Regions from separate parts of the Homo sapiens genome. Here region 1 is linked to region 2. The links come from fine-mapping of genetic effects on gene expression. A gene starts in region 2. The other region holds a variant in brackets. All regions are shown on one strand. Distances are from middle to middle.

Region 1 (5,364 bases), 210 kb after region 2:
CCACCTACCCTGCCTCAGCCTCGGACTTCTCAGTGGGTGGAGTGCCAGGGAGGAGGAGGCACACGGAGACCTGGGGCTCGGGGCCCCTGGATTCCTGCATCTGCATATGCGTATTTGCCAAAGACGACAGGGTGGGCTGGGGTGCGCTCCGGAGGAACCCCCGGCACTGATGGGCTTCTGCCCCTGCCCTTCCTCACACTGACACTTTGTCCCCACATGGGGTGGGGAGCAGAGTGCCCGCCCCGTGGAGATACCGCCCCAGCGGGGGCTGCGACATCCATGGCCACCATGGGGCACCTGGCGGGGCGGGGGTCTGCCGGCCTCTGGGCAAGGCCCCTGGAGCATCTCGCCCAGGCTTTTTATACCTTACAATGTAACTTTTTTATTTTATTTTACTCTATGATTATTCAGGAATATTATCTCTCAGATAAGTTTAGGGTTAGATTTCTGATTTGTAACTTTTTACTGTGTTGATTTCTTTAATGGTTTGACTTTTTTTCCCTGAGGGTGAGGGATGGGTGGGAAGAGAGGACATCTGTCCAGTCTCAATCAGGACAGACCACCGTGCGACACCCAGGAGGCTCTCGGATGGGGCGCGCCTGCGCCCTCAGAACGTGTGGGAAGGAGGGGGCGTGGACAGGACACGGGACCTTGCCAGGCCTGGTGTCTGAGGACAGGAGCCTGGGAGAGGCGGGTGGAGCGTGAAGCAGGCTGGAGGTGCCCCTGCACGGGAGGTGGCGTTTGCTAACCAATCGAGCTGGAAATGCCAGGGCAGGGGGGCCCCACGGTGCTGTGGCAGAGCTAGAGGGGTCCTTAGACTTTTCACTGATGAGCAGTTGTTGGTTTTTTCTTTCTCCCTTCCTCCCGCTCTCTGCTGGCACGCGAGGCTTCCCCTTCCACCCCATGTGGGTATTCCCACAACAGGTTCTGCACACCCCAGTTATTTCACAGACATTCCTGCTAGAAACTGTCAGACAAATACCTCTCTAGTTCGGATGCTGCTCACTTTCCCCCTTGCTTCTGGAAGGGGAAGCAGTCCTTAGGTTTTGCTGTGCTGGGACAGTGGCAGGGGACCCACAGGGGTGAGGACCCACGGTCCTCCCCGCCAGCCTTGCTCAGCTGTGGGTTGCCCTGCTGGGAAGGAGGGAATCACGTCCACCTGGGTCCCAAGATCTTCGCCTCCTTCCCTGGGGCCACGGACATCAGCAGTGGGTTGGGTGGCGATTATATCATCTGTGATCCCAAGGAGAAGAAATACAGAAAACCCAAGAGAGGTCAGACTGGCTCTTGTTACCGGAGCCACGGGAAGAAAGCAGCCGGAGTCACGCACGTGCAGAGCTGGGCATGGGAGAGAAACGGGCTGGGGAGTGAGGCCAGGAGTGGGATTCAGCTGCAGCAGGGCGCCCCCTCCAAACTGCAGCTGGTCTGGCTTACTGTTTTGCCGTTCAAAAAGGTCGCGAATCCGTGGGACTGAGCACGGGGACCTCACCCGCTAGCCAGCGTCTGCTGCACTTGATCAGGTGGGGCCTTGGTGGGCGGCTGCCTTTCCTATACAGTTTGTCTTGTCACCCTGGTTTCCCACTGGGGCCAGGTCTCTTCTCCAGCCTCCACCTGCCTGTCTGATCCAAGAGCTGAGACACGGCCACCCAGCACCAGTCACTCCTCTGTTCACCTTAAGTAACACACAAATCGGGAACAGGAGGACAGAACCGTTGGCATTATCAGGATTCGTGTTTTGTGGGGGTGGGAGTGGAGAGTAGGGTGGTCTTGTGAGTTGTGCAGGGTGAAGACCGCTTCCCTGAGACAGGGGCAGTGGTGCTGATGGAATGTGGGGGAGGCCCACATTTGAGCAAAGCTGCCCTGCCCTTGTCCCCTGGCCTGGCTTCCTGGTAAGGAGTTTCAGCCGCCTCCGCAGGAACCCCCAAAGTGCAGATTCCGGAGCAGACACATCCGGGCGGAGAGACTCAGCAGACAAGTGCTGCAGTTGCACGGTGGGACCCGGGGCCTCGTGCGTTTTTTGCTGTGGGTGGGGTGGGTGGGTTGGTTTATGCCTATCAATGCAATTTTTAATTTTTGTTAATATCAACAGCAAAAGCCTAGTGCATTGGGAGATGTGCAACCTCCCTGAAAATCTTTTCTGTTTCTGGAGTACTTCAGGGGTGGCCTCTGGCCCCAGAGC[C/CTTTG]TTTGCCACAGTGCTCCCACCAGCCCCCACCTCATCCGTCTGTTTGCAGAGCCTCATCTACAGGTCCCCACGCTGCCTTCTTTACTCACTCTGCGCTTGGCCGTTTTGTTATTTGGCTTAGTCTACATTGGGCGGAAGTCTGTGTGCACAGAGTGGGTGTTCCTTCGAGCCCCTTCCACTCAGAGGGCCACACCCAGCGATGCCAGTGAAGGTGGCACAGCCTCTCTTCAGTTTCTCCTGACTGTGATCTCACTGGGGTAGAATTCCCCTGAGAGAATTCCCTCACTCACGGCTCCCTTTGCCAGAGTCAGTTCAATCAGGTCTGATGTGAGCAATTTACACACTTGTCTCAGAAAGTCCCTCAGGGTTTGTAGAGGACTGCAGGGGGGCATCCGCTGCAGACTCAGCCTTTCTCTGCAGCCATCCTGCAGTGGGGGTGAGCGGGCACAGGCTGAGAACTGCTCTTGGGTGGTGGAAGCAGGTGTCACGGTGCAAGTCTCCCCCTGCACCCCTCCCCCAGCTTGAGCCGTGTCACCCCCCTCTCCCTCCAGCATGGGCCTGTGTCTCAGGCTCTCTGGAAGGTGGCCCTGCCCCGGACCCTCTTGCAGGTGTCCTGGTTTGACTTGGAACTAGATGGCCATCTTTCCAGGCTTTGGTGGCCCAAGAGCAGTCTGGGTGGATGGAAGTGGCTGTCCCCTCCTCTCCAGCCCCTGCCCACCCACTGGTGGAGGTGCTAACTAGCAGGGACGTGGCATAGGATGGGAGCTGGGCGTGAGGTGCTTGGGGTCCATTCTTTGTCCCTCAGCTTCTCAGAGTCCGGCCAGCCCTTGTGTTCCCGTGCCCCACACTTTCCTCCTCCCCACTGCAGTGAGTCAATAGTCCAGGGTGGGGCCTGGCCTCCCTGCCCTGATTGGGGACTCAGGAGGTGAGGCCTGGGGGGCTTCCTGCCCCCTCCTTGCCCACCTGCCTGCCCCCGGGCAGCACGGGAGGGAGAGCAGGGTGAGCACGCTTGTTGGTTTCAGATGCACTTTCTGCTTGCATTGCCGTATCTGTGCGTTCCTTCATCCTGGTCCTGGCTTTATGGAACACCATGTTTTTAGCATGTTTTTAAATAAAAACGGATAAAGTGTCAAAAGCACAGCAGGCTGTCTCTCAGTGGTGTGTTTTGTTCACTCAGCCAAAACTGTGACTTAGGTCGTGGTTGGTGTGAGGGACCCAGAGGGATCAGATACCACTCCTACCCTTCATCCAAGACACACCCCCAGGGGGACCTCATCTCTCTTTTGGGGCCCAGGTCACAGATCTGCTGGCGTGGGGAGGGTCTCTGTCCTCTCTGGGTGCCTGAGGAATCCTAACATCCCCCCTCGAAACAGGCTGGATCAGGGGGCAGTCCCAGTGCCCGAGGCCTTCTGCCTGAGAGGCTGAAGTCCTGTCTCCGTACCAATCACCCATCACACATGGCCAGTCCTGTGGCCAGGCCCCGAAGTGTATCGTGGGGCGGGTATGGAATAAGCCACTAGCAGCTTCCAGTAGGGTAAGGGGCTTCCTGTAGGGGTGGGGGCTGTCAGTTTCAGAAACAGTCTTCTTCCCAATCCCTGTGATGTTCCCGGGGTTCATTTGACCTTGATGTCTCGGACTGAGGGGGCCTCACAGTGTGTCTTGGCCTTTTCAGGGTGACTGGGACAGCCTCAAAGAAGGAACAAAATCAGGATGAGGATGGTCAGCAGGGAAGGCCATTAAAACCGCGAGCAGGAAGAGCTGCTGGCTGGGCCACTGACGTTGCCGCCTTCCTGCAGTCGAAGTCTCCCGCGGCCTTGGTTGGGGTCCTGGTGTGTGGGGTTTCCTTGGCTGTCAGTCAAGGTGACAAGTTGCAGATGAGAAGCTCAGAACTCCCCTTGCTGGTCCTCACTGTGTTCATGTCCCCAGGGTGGAGGCAGGCGTGAGGGTGAGTGTGCATGGGGGTCTGAGAGCAGTTGGAGGTTTGGAGGTGAGCATCTTGAAACCCCTCTGCCTGTGGAACTCCATCTCCCGCCTTCTCAAGGGAGTGGCCAGGTCCACACAGAATTATCCCAAAACATCAACCTCTGGGGCCCCCTCCTGCAGCTGCTGTGTCCCAGAGCCTCCAGAGACGGTGCCTTGAGTCTGAGCCACCCTCTGTCTAAGGTCCAGCTGGAGTGATGTCCCTGGGAACCTCCCCAGGATATTTACCGAGAGAGACTTTGTGGCTGTAGGGTCAGGATTGATCGTGGCTGAGGAGCAGGTGACCCCCTCATCGTCTGCGGAGGACAAACCAGCTCATAGGAATTTGGGTGGATGCCACCCTGTCTCTGCTCATTCTTACTCTCGCTCCTGCCCCCAGGCCTGTTGAGATGCCCACTGGGTCACTGTGCTGTGTTTTGGGGCTTCCAGGCAATGGAACACACTGGCTGTTCTCTTAACCCTCGGCTCTGGTTGCCCTGGCTGTGCGGGAGAGGAGCATCTTCTTTGGGACTTCTAGTGACGAGGCTAGCACCTCTGGGCTGGGTCTGGGCTCCTCTGTCTAGGGAGTGGCTGAGATGACCCGGGGGGGGGGGTCCCTCCTTTGCGCCCCCATTCTTGTGTGTTGTGATGGAACTGCCTCCCCATTGGTGCTCAGCAAAGGGCAAGTGAGAAAGGGTGGCTTCTGAGCCCCGCCAGCTTTCCATGGGGCCAACAGTGGCGCTTGCACAGACAAATGTCTGTTTGCCCAAAGACTTACTGAATACTCACTCGTGCCAGGCACCTAGAACACAGTCGTGGACGACACAGACCCAGTCCCTGCACTTTCAGAGCCGACCATTTAGTGGGGACCCCAGAAGAGTGCCTGTGATTGCAAGTAAGTAGTGGCAGCAATGTTCACAGGGCACTGGGAAGCCCTGGGGGACAGTCACTGGCTGAACCTGGGGAAGTGAGGTCTCCAGAGCAGGTGATGTCAAAGCTAAGAGCTGAAGGTGGAGGTGTTCACCTGGCAAAGAGAGGCAGGAGATGTGTCCTGTGGATGCTTGTGGTCCACAGAGCTGGAGCACAAAGGGTGAAGGTGAAGGTCTGGAGATGGTGGTGACCACCAGATCACAACCTTGAGAACCAGGCCAAGGAACTTGAAGTTCAGGCTGAGAACAGTGGGAGCTGTGGAAAGGCTTTAAGCCCAGGTGTGACAGGCTCAGATG
Region 2 (5,364 bases):
CATGTTGTGCTTTTACTCCATCATCTTGGTCAGCCCATCAACCCTGTGGAATTGGTTTTTTTTTTTTTTTTTTTTTGAGACAGTCTCGCTCTGTCGACCAGGCTGGAGTGCAGTGGCACGATCTTGGCTCACTGCAACCTCCGTCTCCCAGGCTCAAGCAATTCTCCTGCCTCAGCCCTCCGAGTAGCTGGGATTACAGGCATGTGCCACCACACCCGGCTAATTTTTGTATTTTTAGTGGAGACGGGGTTTCACCATGTTGGCCAGGCTGGTCTCAAACTCCTGATCTCAGGTAATCCACCCGCCTCGGCCTCCCTAAGTACTGGGATTACAGGTGTGAGCCACCATGCCCATCCCCATAATTGGTATTCTTATGCCCCATTCCACAGGTGAGAAAACAGGCCTGAAGAGGTCCCAGCCGATAAAAGCAGAGCCAGGATTCAGACAGGTGTGTCTGGCTCCCAAGCCCTGCGGCTACTCCCTCACCAGGCTGCGTCCAATGGTCTGCCAGTGAGTTGGCTTGCTGGCAGACAATCCTAGTATATCTCTTTCCCTGTCTGAGACCCAGTTTCCTTTTCTGGGTACATGTACCCAACTCTGCCGCAGTGACTGGAGAGATTGGGGCTGGTGGGGGTTCCTTGGGAAGACTTTGTTATAGGGGCATTGAACAGGGCTTTGGATGAAGCAAAATGTAGAAGGAGAATATTTTCCTTGTGGGGAAAGGGAGATCAGAAGGAAATGGGTTATGGGTTTAGTCTAATAGACAAAAACAAGGTTGCATGTGTGTGACGGAAAGGGGCCCAGAAGATGAGTGGAAACTTCCAGTCTAATTAGCAGAAAGCAAAAGTGACCCTAGTGATTATAGCCAGGTTTTAAAAACTTGTCCCCAGTCAAGCTTAGTGCAATGGTAGGGCACGTGGGAAGCACAGCATACAGTTTCTTTAAAATTTAAAAAAATTTCACTTTTAAAGACAGGGTCTCCCTCTACTGCCCAGGCTGGAGTACAGTGGCATGATCCTAGTTTACTGCAGCCTCCAACGCCTGAGCCTCAGCCTCCGGAGCAGCTGGGACTACAGGGGTGTGCCACCACACCCGGTTAATTAAAACATTTTTTTTTTGAGATGGGGTTTCCCTATGTTGCCCAGGCTGTTCTTGAATTCCTGAGTTCCTGAGCTCAAGCAATCCTTCCACCTGGGCCCCCCAAAGTCCTGGGATTACACGCGTGAGCCACCACACCTGGCCTAGAAGACATTTTTGATGACAGTAATGATGAGAAGAGATGGCGTTTTAGTGCTCTTTGGAAACAAGTTTAGGCCTTCTAGCTTTAAGAATCCGGGCCTATAATCCCAGCACTTTGGGAGGCAGAGGCAGGAGGATGGCTTGAGCCCGGGAGTTTGAGACCAGCTTGGGCCCAGGGAGACCACCGTCTGTACAAAAAAAATCAAAAACTTCGCCGGACGTGGTGGTGCGCGCCTACAGTCCCAACTACTCTGGAGGCTGAGGCGGGATCACTTGAGCCCGGGAAGTCGAGGCTGCAGTGAGCCGTGATCGCACCACTGCACTCCTGCCTGGGCAACAGAGTGAGTCCTTGTCTCAAGAAAAAACAAAACAAAACAAAAAGCAAAAAACACATAAAATCCAGGCCTGAAAAAGCGCCCGGGCCAGACATGCCTAGCTGGAGTTTCTCCTGCCTTAGCGCACCCCTCAGGCACACGGTGCCCTGTAGTCGCCCTTGGAGGCCGCCAGCTCCTGGGGAGGCATGGCCCTTTCTGCGGGAGGTGTCTCAGGCAGGCTCCAACACACACCCGCGCTGTCAGCATCTCGCACAGTCCGCCCGAAACACCAGGGAAGGGGTTCGTAGGTGTGGGGGTGGGGTGGCGAGGCCAGGCAGCCTGGCGCGAGGGAGAGAGCCGAGGCCTGGGCCAGGAAGGCCCTTGGGTGCCGTGTGGGCGCAGAGCCCAGGAGAGCGCACTGCCAGGCCCGGACCTCCCCGCCCCTACCCCGGGAAGAGGCCCGTTCGCCGCAGGGGGAAGGCGGGATCATAGCACCTCGGAGGAGCGGCCGGTCCGGGCATGCGGGCGGCGGGGCGGGGAGGGAGGCTTCCGGAACCCCGAGAGAGCACCCGTGCCTCGCGGGCCCCGTGCCCCGTCCCCGGGCTCCCCTTCCTCTAACGCAGGGGACCCAGCCCGGGGCAGTGCCGGGCACTGGCGCTGGCGCCCCGCTCAGCCCTGCGATCCTTCTCCGCCCCGCCCCTCCCCGCTCCGCCCCGCCCCTCCCCGCTCCGCCCCCGGGCCGCCCCGCCCCGCAGGCTCGCCATTCCCGGGCAGGCCCCGCCCCCTGTTTCCGCTGGCGGCGGCGGCGGCGGCGGTGCCGGAGCGCGAGCAGAGCGGAGACCCCCAGGTCCTGCGGGCGCGGTGAGTGCGGCCCGGGCGGCGGGCGGCGAGGCGGGTCTCGAGAGCGTGCGGAGTCGCGCGGCCTTGAGCCGGCGCCGGGCGGGCTGGGCACCCCCAGGCCGAGACCCGAGAAGGGGGAGCGGCCGGGGGCGCCCACGGGAGGCAGTGTGGGCAGGGCGGCGGTGGGACGAGAGGACGAGGAACAGAGTAGGCGCCGTGCGGGAAGCGGGCCGGGAAGGGGAGGGTGGGTGCGGGGCCCGGGCACCGAGCGAAGTGGGGTCCTCCAGGGGATGGCTCCGAGGAAGACCGTTTCAGAAAGGGAGTAACCCGGGGCCGGCAAGGGTTTCCGACTGTGTGACCCCGTGCACCGCTTGGGACAGTCCATACAAGGACCCCAGAGAGGGCCAGGGGGCCTTCGGGCAGGGCTGGGATATGGCCTGCAGCCCCCCGGCACCCGCGACCGCTCCCTGGGCCACTGCTGGAAGATCAGCACTCCGAGTGACAGGACTCTGGCACATCCCGAAGTTGGAGATCTAGCCCATCTGTGCATTCAAGTTTGGGACTTCAAAAAACTTTCTTGTGGTTTTTAAAAAAAGATCCAAACAAGAAACCGGCTTGTTGTTGTAAGAGCAATATTTGTACTTGTACATCTTGGAACTGGAGTCTTGGATCTCCTCCCTCTTTGAAAAATATACGAGTCACTGCTTCATCTTCCCCCAAATGCCTGTTTTGTCTGGGGAAGCTTGGGCTAGTATGGGATCCCCTGAGCTACCTTTTTCTCGCATCACCAAAACGGGGGGTAAGAAGGCAGGGGCTTACCTGCCTTACCTGGTAACTCTTAGTTCAGAGACCCAGTCTCTCATTATGTGCGCGTGCCCTTCTGACCTGCAGCTGTCCTTTTCCCTGGGGTGACTCAGGTATTTCCTCCTCCAGGAAGCTTTCCTGGACTAGTGGAGAAAACTGAAGACTCATGCGAGGATCCCTATATATACCTGCCAGCTCCCTTCTCTTTACTGAAAATAGCCACAGAGAATGTTGAATATATGCTTTGCTATAGAGATACGCAGCCAGCTTGCCATCATAAGTAATGGGGAGGGGAGGAGAGGGATTATGGATAATTTCAAACAATAGCCTGGACAAATCATTTATATTTAGCTAAGGAATGCAGCCAGAGAGGCAGACAATTACACCGGCTTCCTACCCTCGGCTTGGTCCTGGCATGGCTGATGCAGCTGGGCTGTGGGTTGGAGGGAGAGGATTGGGGTAGATAAAACTTGAAGTGTAATTCAGTTCTACTCTCACTCACTGAAGACGCCCTGTGTGCAAGTCCCTGAACAGGTGAGAGTAGGATTTTTTTTTTTTTGGTCTGGTTTAATCAGATTTTAATATTCTGGCAGAGCTTTTTAAACCTATGAACAGATATTTAATATTAATAACAATAACTAGTGTTGATAAAGTAATTTATAGTTGGCCAAGTTTTTTCTATGCACGTTACATTAGCTGTATATAATTTTATTTAATTCATACGTAATCTTGTGAAATTTGTTACTTTTTTTTTTTTTTTTGAGACAGAGTCTCACTCTGTTGCCCAGGCTGGAGTGCAGTGGCAGGATCTCAGCTCACTGCAACCCCCGCGTCCCAGGTTCAAGCCATTCTCCTGCCTCAGCCTCCCGAGTAGCTGGGATTACAGGCGCGTGCCGCCACGCCTTCTAATTTTTGTATTTTTAGTAGAGATGAGGTTTTGCCATGTTGACCAGGCTGGTCTTGAACTCCTGACCTCAAGTGATCCACCTGCCTTGGCCTCCCACAGTGCTGGGATTATAGGCGTGAGCCACCGCATTGGCTGAAGTTTGTTACTTTTAATTGCCTTCTTATAGGTTAAGAAAATGATACTCAGAGAGAATAAGTATCTTATCTAAGGTCACAACACTCATTAAGTGAAAGAAGCAAAACTTGAACCCTGGCTTCTGACCTTCCTGCCTTGTGCCATCTATTCTGCCATCTGCCTCTCTGCCCTTCTTCTATTTTATTTATTTATTTTTTTCTGAGACAGACTTTTGCTTTTGTTGCCCAGGCTGGAGTGCGATGGCACTATCTCGGCTCACTGCAACCTCTGCCTACTGGGTTCAAGTGATTCTCCTGCCTCAACCTCCCAAGTAACTGGGATTACAGGTGCCCGCCACCACACCTGGCTAATTTTTGTATTTTTAGTAGAGATGGAGTTTCGCCATGTTGGCCAGACTGGTCTCAAACTCCTGACCTCAGGTGATCCGCCTGCCTTGGCCTCCCAAAGTGCTGGGATTACAGGCATGAACCACCGTACTTAGCCCCTTCTTCTATTTTTTTTTTTTTTTTTTAGAGACAGGGTCTTGCTTTGTTGCCTGGGCTGGAGCACAGGGACACAAGCAGCTCACTGCAGCCTCCAACTCCTGGGCTCAAGTGATCCTCCCACCTTAGCCTCCCGAGTAGCTGGGACTATAGGTACAGGCCCCATGCTCAGATAATTAAAAAAATTTTTTTTTTTTTTTTGGTAGAGACAGGGTTGTGCTATGTTGCCCAGGCTGGTCTCTGGTCTTGAACTCCTGGCCTCAAGCAATTCTCCTACCTTGGCCTCCCAAAGTGTTGGGATTACAGGCGTGAGCCACCACGCCCAGCCCCTTTCCTCTATGTTGAGCCTTGTCTTCACCTGGCACCACCTATTTGTGCAACCTTGGGCAATTTACCTCCTCTTTCCAACTCTCTGTTTTGGTGGTATATTGGATTAGAAATATTCTAGAGTCTCTTCCAGCATCAGATAATTAACAGTGTAAGATATTGGCAGCCACTCAATCAATTAGGAAGTGTGCTTTATATAAAAAATTCTAAAATTGTGGTTAAAAAAACACTGAATGTAAAATCTTTTTTTTGTTGTTGTTGTTTTTGAGATGGAGTCTCACTCTGTCGCCCAGGCTGGAGTGCAGTGGCATAATCA

The links. PIP is the estimated chance that this variant, and not a neighbour inherited with it, causes the effect.
Region 1: its variant is the best candidate, but not a certain one, in a credible set for the expression of TSPAN9 in subcutaneous fat (GTEx, PIP 0.89).

Annotation. Positions count from the first base shown.
Region 1 is chr12:3,283,243-3,288,606 of GRCh38, forward strand. TSPAN9 (tetraspanin 9) reads left to right here. Exons shown (of 9, transcript NM_006675.5): 9 at 1-3,317. Among named protein-coding and RNA genes, the nearest start is that of LINC02827, 14 kb to the right of the region's middle. RefSeq lists enhancers at 984-1,484, 1,485-1,985. The variant C/CTTTG (reference allele first, on the strand shown) is at 2,180.
Region 2 is chr12:3,075,040-3,080,403 of GRCh38, forward strand. TSPAN9 (tetraspanin 9) reads left to right here and starts at 2,340. Exons shown (of 9, transcript NM_006675.5): 1 at 2,340-2,414. RefSeq lists silencers at 1,846-1,895, 1,946-2,445.